Homo sapiens: one gene and its partners. The protein of the gene in region 1 interacts with the protein of each later gene in a biochemical or structural test. Each region holds a gene or a part of one and is shown in the gene's direction. Other genes may lie near its edges.

Region 1 (4,000 bases):
ATTTATTAGGAGAACCAAGGAGTGTAATTCTCCTGTTCTTAATATGCGGCCAGGTTAATGAATGTCACGTGAATGAACCAGAAAAAAATGAAGTGTGCCCTTGATCAGCTGGGTTGGTGTGCAGCAAGCTGTGTGACCAGGGGACAGCAGTGGTCCTGAGGGCCGTCACTGTCTGCCGTGCAGAGCCCTTCCTCCCACGGGGGCCTACCTCACCTGTGCCAAGGGCTTGTCTGTGGTCAGTGACCTGGATAGATCTGAATGGGGCTTCTTTTTCGAGGAGTCTTATGGCAGGTCTCTCAGTAAAGACTCCATTCTTGATGATCACACATTTTGGATTTTCCAAATCTGTCAGAGAATGGGCTTGAGGCGGGGTTTGTGGGCACTAGTTTCACTGGTTTCATTTACCAAAAAGGGGAGCAGAAGTCAAGTATGGTGGCTCATCCCTGTAATCCCAGAGGCAAGAGAATTGCTTGAGCCCAGGAGTTCGAGACCAGCCTGAGCAACATAAGGAGACCCCGTCTCCACAAAAATGAAAAATAACATTTTAGTCAGACGTGGTGGCATGCATCTGTGGTCCCAGCTGCTTGGGAGGGTGAGATGGGAGGGTTGTTTGAGCCCTGGAGTTAAAGTTGCAATGAGCTGTGATTGCACCACTGCACTCTAGCCTGGGTGACAGAACGAGACCCTGTCTCAAAAAAAAAAAAAAAGAAAGAAAGAAAGGAAAAAAAAAACTCATGCCTGTAATCCCAGCACTTTGGGGACCGGGGTGGGCAGATCACGAGGTCAGGAGATCAAGACTATCCTGGCCAACATGGTGAAACCCCGTTTCTACTAAAAATACAAAAATTAGCCAGGTGTGGTGGCACGTGCCTGTAATCCCAGTTACTCGGGAGGCTGAGGCAGGAGAATCGCTTGAACCAGGGAGTCAGAGGTTGCAGTGAGCTGAGATCGTGCCACTGTACTCCAGCCTGGGCGACAGAGTGAGACTCTGTCTCAAACCAAAAAAAAGGGGTGGGGGGCGGGGGCAGGAGAACAGTGAGAGGTAGGGAGAGGAAAGGGGATTCTCGCTACACCCAAACCAGATACCATCTAGAGGCTAGAATCTTTGGGAGGCTCAAATTCCCTAGAAAGCAGGAGAAGCTTCTGTAGCCCTCCCGCTTTCCCAGTAGATTAAGCCCAGGGCGGCTCCAGATGTGTGACATGCTCTGTGCCCAACCAGAGCCCATCATAGGCAGAGGAATAACACCCACACCAGAAGGGCCCTCGGAGGTCACCACGTCCAAGAACCCTCTTTACAGATGAGGAAACTGAGGCCCAGAGAGGGGAGAGCCACCTAGCGAGCTGGTGGCGGCTAGACCAGGAGAGCTGTCATTCCAAGCAAGCAAAGGCAACGAGACGAGCCCAGAGCTGTGCTCCCATCTCTTTGTTAGGGGGCCTGGGATGCCCTCTCAGTGTCATTTTGTCCAGGATGATGCTCCCTCTCTTAAGCGATTAATGCGCCCTTGCTAACCTTTTGCTATCGCTGCCTCTTCAAACCAGAGGAGTTGAGAGTTCCGGGCCGGCAGAGGAAGGCGCCTGAAAGGCCCCTGGCCAATGAGATTAGCGCCCACGTCCAGCCTGGACCCTGCGGAGAGGCCTCTGGGGTCTCTGGGCCGTGCCTCGGGGAGAAAGAGCCAGAAGCTCCCGTCCCGCTGACCGCGAGCCTTCCTCAGCACCGTCCCGTTTGCCCAGCGCCTCCTCCAACAGGAGGCCCTCAGGAGCCCTCCCTGGAGTGGGGACAAAAAGGCGGGGACTGGGCCGAGAAGGGTCCGGCCTTTCCGAAGCCCGCCACCACTGCGTATCTCCACACAGAGCCTGAAAGTGGTAAGGTGGTCCAGGAAGGCTTCCTCCGAGAGCCAGGCCCCCCAGGTCTGAGCCACCAGCTCATGTCCGGCATGCCTGGGGCTCCCCTCCTGCCTGAGGGCCCCAGAGAGGCCACACGCCAACCTTCGGGGACAGGACCTGAGGACACAGAGGGCGGCCGCCACGCCCCTGAGCTGCTCAAGCACCAGCTTCTAGGAGACCTGCACCAGGAGGGGCCGCCGCTGAAGGGGGCAGGGGGCAAAGAGAGGCCGGGGAGCAAGGAGGAGGTGGATGAAGACCGCGACGTCGATGAGTCCTCCCCCCAAGACTCCCCTCCCTCCAAGGCCTCCCCAGCCCAAGATGGGCGGCCTCCCCAGACAGCCGCCAGAGAAGCCACCAGCATCCCAGGCTTCCCAGCGGAGGGTGCCATCCCCCTCCCTGTGGATTTCCTCTCCAAAGTTTCCACAGAGATCCCAGCCTCAGAGCCCGACGGGCCCAGTGTAGGGCGGGCCAAAGGGCAGGATGCCCCCCTGGAGTTCACGTTTCACGTGGAAATCACACCCAACGTGCAGAAGGAGCAGGCGCACTCGGAGGAGCATTTGGGAAGGGCTGCATTTCCAGGGGCCCCTGGAGAGGGGCCAGAGGCCCGGGGCCCCTCTTTGGGAGAGGACACAAAAGAGGCTGACCTTCCAGAGCCCTCTGAAAAGCAGCCTGCTGCTGCTCCGCGGGGGAAGCCCGTCAGCCGGGTCCCTCAACTCAAAGGTCTGTGTCTTGAGCTTCTTCGCTCCTTCCCTGGGGACCTCCCAGGCCTCCCAGGCTGCGGGCACTGCCACTGAGCTTCCAGGCCTCCCGACTCCTGCTGCTTCTGACGTTCCTAGGACGCCACTAAATCGACACCTGGGTGCAGCTGCTCCACTCCCTCGGCCTCCTCCCGTGCTCAGGCTGTGGCCGCACGCGCCCCTCACGCTTGCCCGCCACTCTGCATGTCACCAGCACCCCCGCTCCGTGCTACCCACCTTGTTTGACTCTCTGGCCACTTGATTTGTCCACAACGGCCCATCAGCCCACAGGAGGTTTGGTGGGTGCCTTCCACCGACAGGATGACGGGTGCCCTCATGGTGTCTAGAACTCTCCAACCCTCCCATGTAGGCATAAGCAGCCCCACTTTGCAGATGAGGAAACGGAGGCTCAGAGAAGTACAGTAACTTGCCGAAGGCCAATGAGTAGTAAGTGACAGAGCCAGGTTTGGGATCCAGGTAGGTTGTCTCTGAAAGACACGCCTGTCCTGCATCCCACAACGCCTCCCAGGAGGTGCTGGAGTGTGGACGCCTAACACAGAGATGTGCAGGGCACACACAGCAGGTGACACACACAGCATCCAGAGGTGGCCCAGAGCTCATGCTGTGCCTTTGGCCCAGTGCCCTGCCCCCACCCACTCTGCCTTGTGGCAGGAAGACAAGGAGCAGACACAAGATCTCCCTGGTCCACATGCCACCACCTCCCTCTGCAGAGGACAAGGGGATCCTCATGCTGGCATTGGAGGGGGTTGAGCAGGGCCCACCTTGAGCCCTCAGGAGCACGACCACAGCAGCCCTGCAGGGAGGGATTGGTGGGAGGAGAGTCCCAAGTATCAGGGAGAGGAGAGTTGGTGTCCCACAGGAGACCTCAGAGCCACAAGGCGAGCTTGTTCATAAATTTGGGACCCTTAGCATTTCACAGTTATTTGCAGAGCCCAGAAATGGATGTTACTGAAGCTCACAGTTGCAAGCATCTGTTAAATTTTTATTAGATTTTACTTTTAGGGAAAACTTTGAAATGCTATAAAGAAGCCTGTGTTTAAAAGTTAAGACAGAGGCTGGGGGCGATGGCTCACGCCTGTAATCTCAGCACTTTGGGAGGCCAAGGCAGGTGGATCATTTGAGGTTAGGAGTTCGAGACCAGCCTGGCCAACATGGTGAGACCCTGTCTCTACTAAAATTACAAAAAATTAGCTGGGCGTGGTGGCGGGCACCTGTAGTCCCAGCTACTGGGGAGGCTGAAGCAGGATAAGTGCTTGAACCCAGGAGGCAGAGGTTACAGTGAGCCAAGATCACACCACTGTACCCTAAGCCTGGGCGACAGAGTGAGACTCTGTCTCAAAAAATAAAATAAAATAAAG
Region 2 (3,749 bases), on another chromosome or scaffold:
GGAGGGTCTCAGGTCGACGGCTGAGCGAGCCACACTGACCCACCTCCGTGGCGCAGGAGCGGCGAGTGGTGGAAGGCGCAGTCCCTGACCACGGGCCAGGAAGGCTTCATCCCCTTCAATTTTGTGGCCAAAGCGAACAGCCTGGAGCCCGAACCGTAAGTGGGGACCCGTCGTGGGGGTGGGTAGGAGCAGATCTAGGGATCCTGGAGCAGGGAGTAGGCCTGGGGTGGCGGTGAAGGCTTGAGGGCCACGGAGGAAGATCCGACGACAGCCGACGGCCTTCGTTCGCTTCCGCCCTGCACAGCTGGTTCTTCAAGAACCTGAGCCGCAAGGACGCGGAGCGGCAGCTCCTGGCGCCCGGGAACACTCACGGCTCCTTCCTCATCCGGGAGAGCGAGAGCACCGCGGGTGAGCGGGCGGCGGTCTCGACCGGGCGCGGGGGTGCCCCGGGGTGTGCCCGAGGGGGGGCGCAGGGTGAGCCCGAGGTGGAGACACGGGGTGAGTCGGAGGGGGACGCGGGATGAGCCCGAGGTGGGGGCGCGGGATGACCCGGAGTTGGGGGTGCTGGGTGAGCCCAAGGTGGGGGCGCGGTGGCGGGCCAGACTCACTGCGTTCTTTCGTCGCTTTGTCCATCCATTCATTCATTCAGGATCGTTTTCACTGTCGGTCCGGGACTTCGACCAGAACCAGGGAGAGGTGGTGAAACATTACAAGATCCGTAATCTGGACAACGGTGGCTTCTACATCTCCCCTCGAATCACTTTTCCCGGCCTGCATGAACTGGTCCGCCATTACACCAGTGAGCCCGACGGGACCCCTCCCCCGTGCCCTATCAGCCTATCTCCCCTCAGTCCCCCTCAGGTGTCCCCCATCCATCTTTCAATGCCCTACTCCATTCCCCGCAGTGGGTGAGGTGTGGAACCTGACCCTACGGCCCCAAGTGTTTGGGTGACAGCCCCACACCCCCTTGCTAGTCCACTTCACCTAGATGGGGGCTTGGAGAAGTGGGGGAGGTGGTGTCAATACGAGGCCTGCCCTATTGACAGCCTTCACCCCTCCCTCGTCCTCGCAGATGCTTCAGATGGGCTGTGCACACGGTTGAGCCGCCCCTGCCAGACCCAGAAGCCCCAGAAGCCGTGGTGGGAGGACGAGTGGGAGGTTCCCAGGGAGACGCTGAAGCTGGTGGAGCGGCTGGGGGCTGGACAGTTCGGGGAGGTGTGGATGGGTGAGTGTGGCCTCCAGGACTGCCTGGGAAGAGGGGAACGGGAGGGGCCGCTGAGGTGATGAGAGTCCCAGGACAGCTGCCTGGCGACTTTCCCACTCCTTCCCTTCCCCGACCCAGGGTACTACAACGGGCACACGAAGGTGGCGGTGAAGAGCCTGAAGCAGGGCAGCATGTCCCCGGACGCCTTCCTGGCCGAGGCCAACCTCATGAAGCAGCTGCAACACCAGCGGCTGGTTCGGCTCTACGCTGTGGTCACCCAGGAGCCCATCTACATCATCACTGAATACATGGAGAATGGTGGGTGCTACCCGAGTCGGCTACCAGGGGATACTGCTCTCCCTGCTGTCCCTGCCAGAGGGTGGAAATACACCTTTTCTTCTGGCCCAAAGCTCAAGCAAGGAGGGTTTCTTGAGCTTTCCTGCCCCCTGGAGACTCACCTCCAGCCGGGCGCGGTGGCTCAGGCCTGTAATCCCAGCACTTTGGGAGCCGAGGCGGGCAGATCACGAGGTCAGGAGTTCGAGACCAGCCTGACCAATATGGTGAAACTCTGTCTCTACTAAAAATACAAAAAGTAGCCAGGTGTGGTGGCACATGCCTGTAATCCCAGCTACTCAGAAGACTGAGGCAGGAGAATCCCTTTAATCCGGGAGGTGGAGGCTACAGTTGCAGTGAGCTGAGATCATGCCACTGAACTCCAGCCTGGGTGACAGAGCAAGACTCTATCAAAAAAAAAAAAAAAAAAAAGACTCACCTCCAGGCATGAGAAAAAGGTGTATCCTCTGATCTGATCCTGTCTGGGGGCAAGCCTAAGGTGGCAAGAATGTTCTGGAAGAGCATTCACCCCAACCTTCCCTGACCTGCCATTCTGTTTGCCTTCTTCAAAGCCCTACCTTGATCTCAGGATGCTTGATCTCAGAAAGCAAGTGGGTCCCTAGCCCTGTTTCTCTCCCTTCTGCCCCTGAGCCCTAGGAGGGCAGATCTGCCCCCAAAGCCCTCTTTTTCAGTTCTGAGTGAGACCCCCACCCCTGCACCCCTCTTGGTCTGTTACTGGACAGAGTGAGAGCCCCAGGAAGAGGAATATGAGTTTCTAGCTTCAGCTTTGTTCACACCGATTTGCCGTGTGACAGGCCAAGTGCCTGCACTGTCTCTGGTGCTCAGTTTCCCCAAGTATAACAGCAGAAATCTAAATGGGCTCACCAGAAATAATACAGAGTATTCATCAAGGCCTCTAGAGTCTGACTGCCTGGGTCAGAAGCCTGGCTTCATGATTTTATGGCTTTGTGATAATTATATCACCTCTTTCTGCCATGGTTTCCTACTATAATAACGCGTTAGTAACTTCCTCACAGGGTCTTGTGAGGATGAAATAATTAATGCATACAGAGCAGTTAGAACTATGCCTACTTCCAGGTGCTGTGGCTCAAGCCTATAACTCCAGCACTTTGGGAGGCCAAGGTGGGTGGATCACTTGAGCCCAGAAGTTCAAGACCAGTCTGTGCAACATAGCGAGACTTCATTCCTACAAAAAAATGTTTAAAAATTAGCTGGGCATAGTGGTGTATGCCTGTAGTCCCAGCTACTTGGGAGGCTGAGGTGGGAGGATCACTTGAGCCCAGGAGGTTGAGGCTGCACTGAGCTGTGATTGCACCACTGCACTCCAACCTGGGTAACAGAGCGAGACCTTGTCTCAAAACAAAAAACCCACAAAACTATGGCTACCATATAGTAACTGATCAATAAGTTTGTTGCTGTTATCTGGCTCTGATTCTTTGGGAGTGTAAGATCTATCCTTTTTTCAGGAAGAGAAACAAGCTGTTCATTGGCTAATGGGAAATGGCAAATAGATTATGTCATGTGTATCTTTTTTTTTTTTGAGTCTCACTCTGTCCTCCAGGCTGGAGTGCAGTGGCATGATCTCGGCTCACTTCAGCCTCCCCCTCCTGGGTTCAAATGATTCTCATGCCTCAGTCTCCCAAGTAGCTGGGACTACAAGCATGTGCCACCATGCCTGGCTAATTTTTGTATTTTTAGTAGAGACAGGTTTTCGCCTTGTTGGCTAGGCTGGTCTCGATCTCCTGTCCTCAGGTGATCCTCCCGCCTTGGCCTCCCAAAGTGCTGGGATTACAGATGTGAGCCACCATGCCCAGCCTATCATGTGTATCGACTTTGATTGGTAGTTGCTTGTAGTGCTGGAGAAGGATTCTGAGGTTCATTGGAAGTGAGTGCCAGGAATGATTAGTAACATCTGCCATGGATACAATGGAAGAATGGCAGTATATCTATGTCTATGTATTTGCTGTGTGTAGGTGAGGTCTTTGTCTTTGGTAACTAGTTCAGCACTCAAAGTGGGGACACTCAGGTTGCTGTCATCCTTTTACAGGGTTTTAATCTCTTGGGAAGGGCCATTGGTCACTCACTGCATCCTAGCAACTCCCATCCATGTCCAGCTGCCCTCCACTATTAGAGAGGTGGTCCCTCAGACCCCCAGACCCCCTCTTTCTTATTCCATCCAATATATTCAGCA
Region 3 (2,504 bases), on another chromosome or scaffold:
AGGCCATCCCCACTCCGGAATTAAACCTCAGCCCCTCCCACAGAGTTTTCTCAAATCTGTGAAGTTTCTTCAAAAGGCGGTGGAGGTGCTCAGCAGTGCAAGGTGGGGGGTGGAGGGGGTGGGGAGTAGAGGGAGTGGGGGTTCCACGGGTTTGGGTCTTGCCCAGTGGGCACATGGCCTGTGTAATAGGAAACAAGTCCATTCTCCTGCTGTGGGGGGCAGAGGAGCTGGCGGGGCGAGGGAGGGGGAGATGTGGGCTCAGGTATTCTTGGTGGATGCGCTTCGTTCTGTGGCTGATGGGGTGGCTTAAAAGATCTTAACAGAGAGAGATCAGGAAGCCAGACTGCAAGGTGGGGGACATTTCCTAAGAGCAAGTGTACCCTCCATTCCCTCTTTTGAGGAACAAAGAGTATCTTTGCTGGGGCCTGAGTCATCCATGAAAACAGACAGCAGCGGTGTCCCAGGGCAGGGCTTGCCTGGCGTGGATTGGGGTGGTGCTGCCCCCAGTGAGGGGCAGCACAAGGGGAGACAGAAATGGAGGAATAGCCCCCGTAAGGGCAAGCCCAGTGTGCACCAGTGCCCAGAGCTGCCTGATGGAGGAACAGCTCCGTAAGGGTGAACCCAGTGTGCACGGGTGCCCGGAGCTGCCTGCGTGAGGCTGGGGGCTAGTTTGGATGAGGGCATGGCTCAACTTTCACTTGGCACATTGAAATAGCTTTTGCTGTCTGCTAGGGTGTGGAAAACTGTTTTTCCATGGCCCCAAGCAATGCTATAGCTACAGCTGAGGAGGGAGGAATCTCTCCCTGCCTCTCCTCCCAACTCTTGGCTTTTGCTTCCTTAAATTTGAACAATTCCCTAAGATCTAATGCTGGGAGGCTCCCCTTCCTTCATTACACAGTGAACTCATGTGCTCTATCTGCATTCCCCCTAAATCCTCCTGAGCTTTTAGGTAAGAGGCCGATGATTTCACAATCGGCAGCAGAGGCCTAAGGCCATTCCATCAAACTGAAGATGGCAGCAAGTTGTCCTCACTTCTTCATTGAGCACCCATGGGTGTGTACTGGAGCAAGGGTGGTGCCAGGGATTCTCCTGCTCTGGTTCCTCCTGCGGGGTCCCTGCTCAGCTGGGCAGCTGCCCTCACTCTGGGCGGGTGGCATGTGAGTGTCAACAGGGCCCCTCTCAGTCAGGGGCTCTTGGCCATTTTTTGTGCCATGGATCGCTTCTCAAAATCATATTTTCTTTTCTTTTCTTTTGAGATGGGGTCTCACTCCATTACCCAGGCTGGAGTGCAGTGGTGCAATCACAGCTCACTGTAGCCTCGACCTCCCTGGGTTCAGGTGATCCTCCCACCTCAGCCTCCCAAGTAGCTGGGACTATAGGCATGCACCACCATGCCTGGCTAATTTCAGAATAATATTTTCATACACATAAAATATGTAGGATTACAAAGTAAGCTAGTTATATTTATATACAGTTGTCAAAATATTTTTAAAATGTATAACGTGATACTATGTGTATAGGTTTCTTTATTAACATATTGAATAAAAAGATCGAGGGTAGGCCTATTAAACAATGGTAAACTGAAGAGAGATGAGTGTAAACAATATTTTAAGATAGATACCTGTGGCAAACTGTAAAGGGATATGAAAAACTCTGTAATTTCTATTGGCACTGCTGATACAACTGCACTTTGCTACCTTTGTTCATAACCAAGGAAATAGAAATGACTGAAAATAAAGTTGTATTCTATTCCAATCCAAGTGCACAGACCCCTGAATTCTATAGTTTGTGGACCCCAGTTATGAGCTATTGGAATGAGGCTGTTCTAGCTACTGAAATGAGGCTTTAGGTATCCTCTGTCAATTCCTAACAAACCCCCCAGCCCCACCCTCTATGATCATGGAGCCAGGCTGGAAACTTCCAGCACTGCACCTGGACGCCCACACACTCATCAGGGCCCGCTCCTCTGGACCGCCCAACCTCACCATCTGGGTAGAAATGGACCTGACTGGGGCATTTTGCTAGGGCAGCACTCCCCAACGTTTTTAGCTCCAGGGACTGGTTTTGTGGAAGACAACTTTTCCATGGATGGAAAGGTTTTGGGTGGGGAATGGTTTTGGGTGAAACTGTTCCACTTCAGATCATCAGGCATTAGATTCTCATAAGGAACGTGCAACCTGGATCCCTTGCATGTGCAGTTCACAATAGGGTTCGTGCTCCTATGAGAATCTTGTGCCGCCACTGATCTGGCAGGAGGCAGAGCTCAGGCTGTAATACTCACCTGCGGCTCACCTCCAGCTATGCAGCTCGTTCCTAACAGGCCACAGACAGGTATCGGCCCCCTGCCTGGGGGTTGGGGAACCCTGTGTTAGGGAATTGGTGGAGGCCTCTATATCTAGTTTGCAGAATGGGTGGAACTCCTCCATCCCTGCCCTACTGTGGTCCCTCTAAACAATTTTACTGATGAAGACACTTAGGCCCAGAGTAGGGCGAGGGCTCAGGTC
Region 4 (3,952 bases), on another chromosome or scaffold:
AAAACTAAGCAACAGAAACTGTTTCTCTTGGATAGAACAACTAGGCAGGAGATGAAGGCAGGAGAAGACTTGAGCAACACTGTAAACTGACTGTATACCTCATGTCTGTAAAACAACACCCAACAACAGCAGAATACTTTCCTCTCAAGTAAACATGAAACATAGTCATATGCTAGACTGTAAAACATGCCTCAGGCAATTTAAGAAGATTAGATTCTTAAAAGGATATTCTCCAAACACAAGGAAATGAAATTAGAAATCATTAACATGGCTGGATGCTGTGGCTCACACAAGTAATCCCAACACTTTGGGAAGCCAAAGTAGGAGGATCACTTGAGGCCAGCCTGGGCAACATAGGGAGACCCCGTCTCTACAAAAAAATTTAAAAATTAGCCAGGTATGGTGCCAAGCACCTGTAGTCTCAGCTGTATGGGAGGCTGAGATGGAGGATCACTTGAGCCCAGTTGATCAAGGCTGCAATGAGCTATGATCACAGCACTACACTACAGCCTAGGCAACAGAGCAAAGACCCTGTCTCAGAAAGAAAAAAACAAAAAAAAAAACAAGAAGATTTGAAATCAGTAACCTATCTTTATACTTGAGGACCTAGAAAAAGCAGAGTAAACTAAACCTGATGTAAGCTTATGAAACGAGGTTTAGAGTAGAAATAAACAAACAGTAGAAAATCATTACAGAAAAATCAACAAAACCCAAAGTTGATGCTTTGAAAAGCCTTAACTAGACTGGCCAAGAAAAAAAGGAGTAAAGACTCACATTACCAAATCACTAGAGACCTTACTGAAATAAAAAGGATTATAAGGGAATACAATAAATAACTATATGCCAGCAAATTCAGTAACTTTGATAAAACGTACTAATTCCTAAAAAGAAACTACTGAAACTGACTCAAGAAATATGAAATCTGAATGACCTTTCAAATGTGAAAATATTGAGCCAGCATGGTGGCTCACACCTATAAATCCCAGCTTTGGGAGGCCAAGCTGAGAGGATTGCTTGAGACTAGGAGTTTGAGACCAGCCTGGACAACATAGCAGGACCTTGTCCCTATTTAATTTAAAAGAATATAAATAAATGAGTGAAAAAGTTAAAACTCCCCACAAATAAAAGGCCAAGCCCAATTGGCTTCATTGATGAAGTCCACCAAATGTTTAAAGAAAGGAATTGGCCAGGTGCGGTGGCTCTAACCAGTAATCCTAGCACTTTGGGAAGCCAAGGCAGGCAGATTGAGCCCAGGATTCAAGATCAGCCTGGGTAACATGGTAAAACCCTGTATCTACAAAGAATACAAAAATTAACCTGGTGTGGTGGCTCAGCCTATAGTCTCAGCTACTCAGGAAGCTGAAGTGGGAGGATCACCTGAGCCCAGGGAGGTTGAGGCTACAGTGAGCCATGATCACACCACTGCACTCCAGCTTGGGCAACAGAGTGAGACCCTGTCTCAAAAATAAAAACGAGTTAATGCCAATCCTTCACAAACACTTCCAAAAAACAGAAGAGGAGGACTACTGCATTCATTCTGTCACACCTGCACTATTATCCTTGATACCAAAAGTAGACAAAGGCAAAAACAGACCAGCATTTGTTACGAATACAGATATAAAATTTTCCAACATACGTACCAGCAACCTGGATCTAGCAATATGTAAAAAGATTATACACCATGAGCAAGTGGGATTTATCCCAGGAATGCTAGGTTGGTTCAAAACATGAAAATCAATATAATAAACCATATTAATATTAAGGGATTAAAAAACACATGATCATCTCAATAGAGGCACAAAAATAATTGGAAAAATCCACTAGCCAGAAACACTCAAGAAAATAGTGATATTAGGCCTGGCGCGGTGGCTCACGCCTGTAATCCCAGCACTTTGGGAGGCCGAAGCGGGTGGATCATGAGGTCAGGAGATGAGACCATCCTGGCTAACACGGTGAAACCCCGTCTCTACTAAAAAAAAATAAGAAAATTAGCCGGGCATGGTAATGGGTTCCTGTAGTCCCAGCTACTCAGGAGGCTGAGGCAGGAGAATGGTATGAACCCAGGAGGCGGAGCTTGCAATAAGCCGAGATCGTGCCAGTGCACTCCAGCCTGGGCGACAGAGCAAGACTCTGCCTCAAAAAAAAAAAAAAAAAAAGTGATATTATTATTATTATTAAATAATATTAAACAATTATTGTTTAATTATTTAAACTTGATATTATTTAATCTTTAATTATTTAAGCTTTTAAATAATAATAACATTTAGAAATTGTTATGCCAGGCACCAAACCAGACATTCTGTCTTCTTAAATTTTCACCATAGCCCTATGAAGCAGTTAGTTGGAATGGGAGCATCTGCAGTGATTTGCCCATGGCCATTCCAGCCGTAAGTGATGTAGTCATGGTGGGAAAGCAGGACTGCTGTTTCTACTACAGTGTCTTGTTCTTTATTCATTTGTTTTCTTTGCAAAGTCAGATCCTTTATTTGCTTCCTTTTTTGCCATTTACAGCCTTCAATTTGACCCAGCGCCTCGTCGTGGTGAGCCTCATGTTACACGGCGCACCCCAGACTACTTCCTATAAATTTCTCCTGGGAAACCTGCCTTTGTATGTGGAAGTATACCTGGCTTTTTAAAATATATGTATTTAAAAACAAAAAGCAACAGTAATCTATGTGTTTCTGTAACAAATTGGGATCTGTCTTGGCATTAAACCACATCATGGACCAAATGTGCCATACTAATGATGAGCATTTAGCACAATTTGAGACTGAAATTTAGTACACTATGTTCTAGGTCAGTCTAACAGTTTGCCTGCTGTATTTATAGTAACCATTTTCCTTTGGACTGTTCAAGCAAAAAAGGTAACTAACTGCTTCATCTCCTTTTGCGCTTATTTGGAAATTTTAGTTATAGTGTTTAACTGGCATGGATTAATAGAGTTGGAGTTTTATTTTTAAGAAAAATTCACAAGCTAACTTCCACTAATCCATTATCCTTTATTTTATTGAAATGTATAATTAACTTAACTGAAGAAAAGGTTCTTCTTGGGAGTATGTTGTCATAACATTTAAAGAGATTTCCCTTCATTTAAACTAAATTACTGTTTTATGTTGATCTGCATATTTCTGTATATTTGTCATGACAGTGCTTGCATCCTATTTGGTGTACTCAGCAAATAAACTTTTCATTTTAAACAAAAACATTCATTTATTGTGTTGTGCATTAAATGAAAACTTTATTTTTTCTAGACCAGGTCTTGCTCTGTCATCTGGGCTGGAGTGCAGTGGCACAGTCATAGCTCACTTCAACCTTGAACTCCTGAGCCCAAGCCATTCTCCTCCCTCAGCCTCCTGAGTAGCTGGGACTACACTCAACATACCACCACACCCAGCTAATTTGTAAAATATTTTGTAGAGACGGGATCTTGTTATGTTGCCCAGGCTGGTCTTGAACTCCTGGCCTCAAGTGGCCCTGCCAAATTCTTGAGATTATAGATGTGTGCCATCACACCTGGCCTGCTATCTTGAAACGACATAAAATCTTTCAAAGCAGGGCAATGGGACATGGCTATAGTCCCAGCTACTCAGGAGGCTGAGGTGGAGGATGGCTTGAACCCAAGAGCTTGAGGGCAGCCTGGGCAACATAGCAAGATGTCATCTCTAAAAAATAAAAAATAGGCTGGGCATGGTGGCTCATGCCTGTAATCCCATTGCTTTGGGAGGCTGAGAAAAGAGGATTGCTTGAGCTCAGGAGGTTGAGACCTGCCTGGGCAACACAGTGAGACTCCATCTCTGTATTTTTTTTAAAAAAATTTTTAATCTCTAAACTTGAAATAAACATTTGTGTTGAGGAAATTTTATTGTAATATTCTTTGTTACAGGACTTACTTTCAGAAGAAATTCAAATAGCTGATAACTTTTAGACCATAAAAAAAAGCCAGTCGAAAAAT

The links.
Region 2: the proteins of MAPT (region 1) and LCK form a complex in vitro, tested with the Homo sapiens proteins (2 studies listed by BioGRID, with this or other methods).
Region 3: of the proteins of MAPT (region 1) and MAPK13, one has a biochemical effect on the other in vitro, tested with the Homo sapiens proteins (2 studies listed by BioGRID).
Region 4: of the proteins of MAPT (region 1) and PPP2CB, one has a biochemical effect on the other in vitro, tested with the Homo sapiens proteins (2 studies listed by BioGRID).

What each region holds. Positions count from the first base shown.
Region 1 is NC_000017.11:45,981,327-45,985,326, forward strand, and holds part of MAPT (microtubule-associated protein tau), read left to right. Parts: intron 1-1,539; coding exon 1,540-2,604; intron 2,605-4,000. UniProt on the Homo sapiens protein: Promotes microtubule assembly and stability, and might be involved in the establishment and maintenance of neuronal polarity.
Region 2 is NC_000001.11:32,275,265-32,279,013, forward strand, and holds part of LCK (tyrosine-protein kinase Lck), read left to right. Parts: intron 1-56; coding exon 57-155; intron 156-304; coding exon 305-408; intron 409-649; coding exon 650-799; intron 800-1,072; coding exon 1,073-1,225; intron 1,226-1,342; coding exon 1,343-1,522; intron 1,523-3,749. UniProt on the Homo sapiens protein: Non-receptor tyrosine-protein kinase that plays an essential role in the selection and maturation of developing T-cells in the thymus and in the function of mature T-cells. Plays a key role in T-cell antigen receptor (TCR)-linked signal transduction pathways.
Region 3 is NC_000006.12:36,142,767-36,145,270, forward strand, and holds the end of MAPK13 (mitogen-activated protein kinase 13), read left to right. Parts: 3' UTR 1-1,755; downstream 1,756-2,504. UniProt on the Homo sapiens protein: Serine/threonine kinase which acts as an essential component of the MAP kinase signal transduction pathway.
Region 4 is NC_000008.11:30,784,867-30,788,818, reverse strand, and holds the end of PPP2CB (serine/threonine-protein phosphatase 2A catalytic subunit beta isoform), read left to right. Parts: intron 1-2,511; coding exon 2,512-2,584; 3' UTR 2,585-3,203; downstream 3,204-3,952.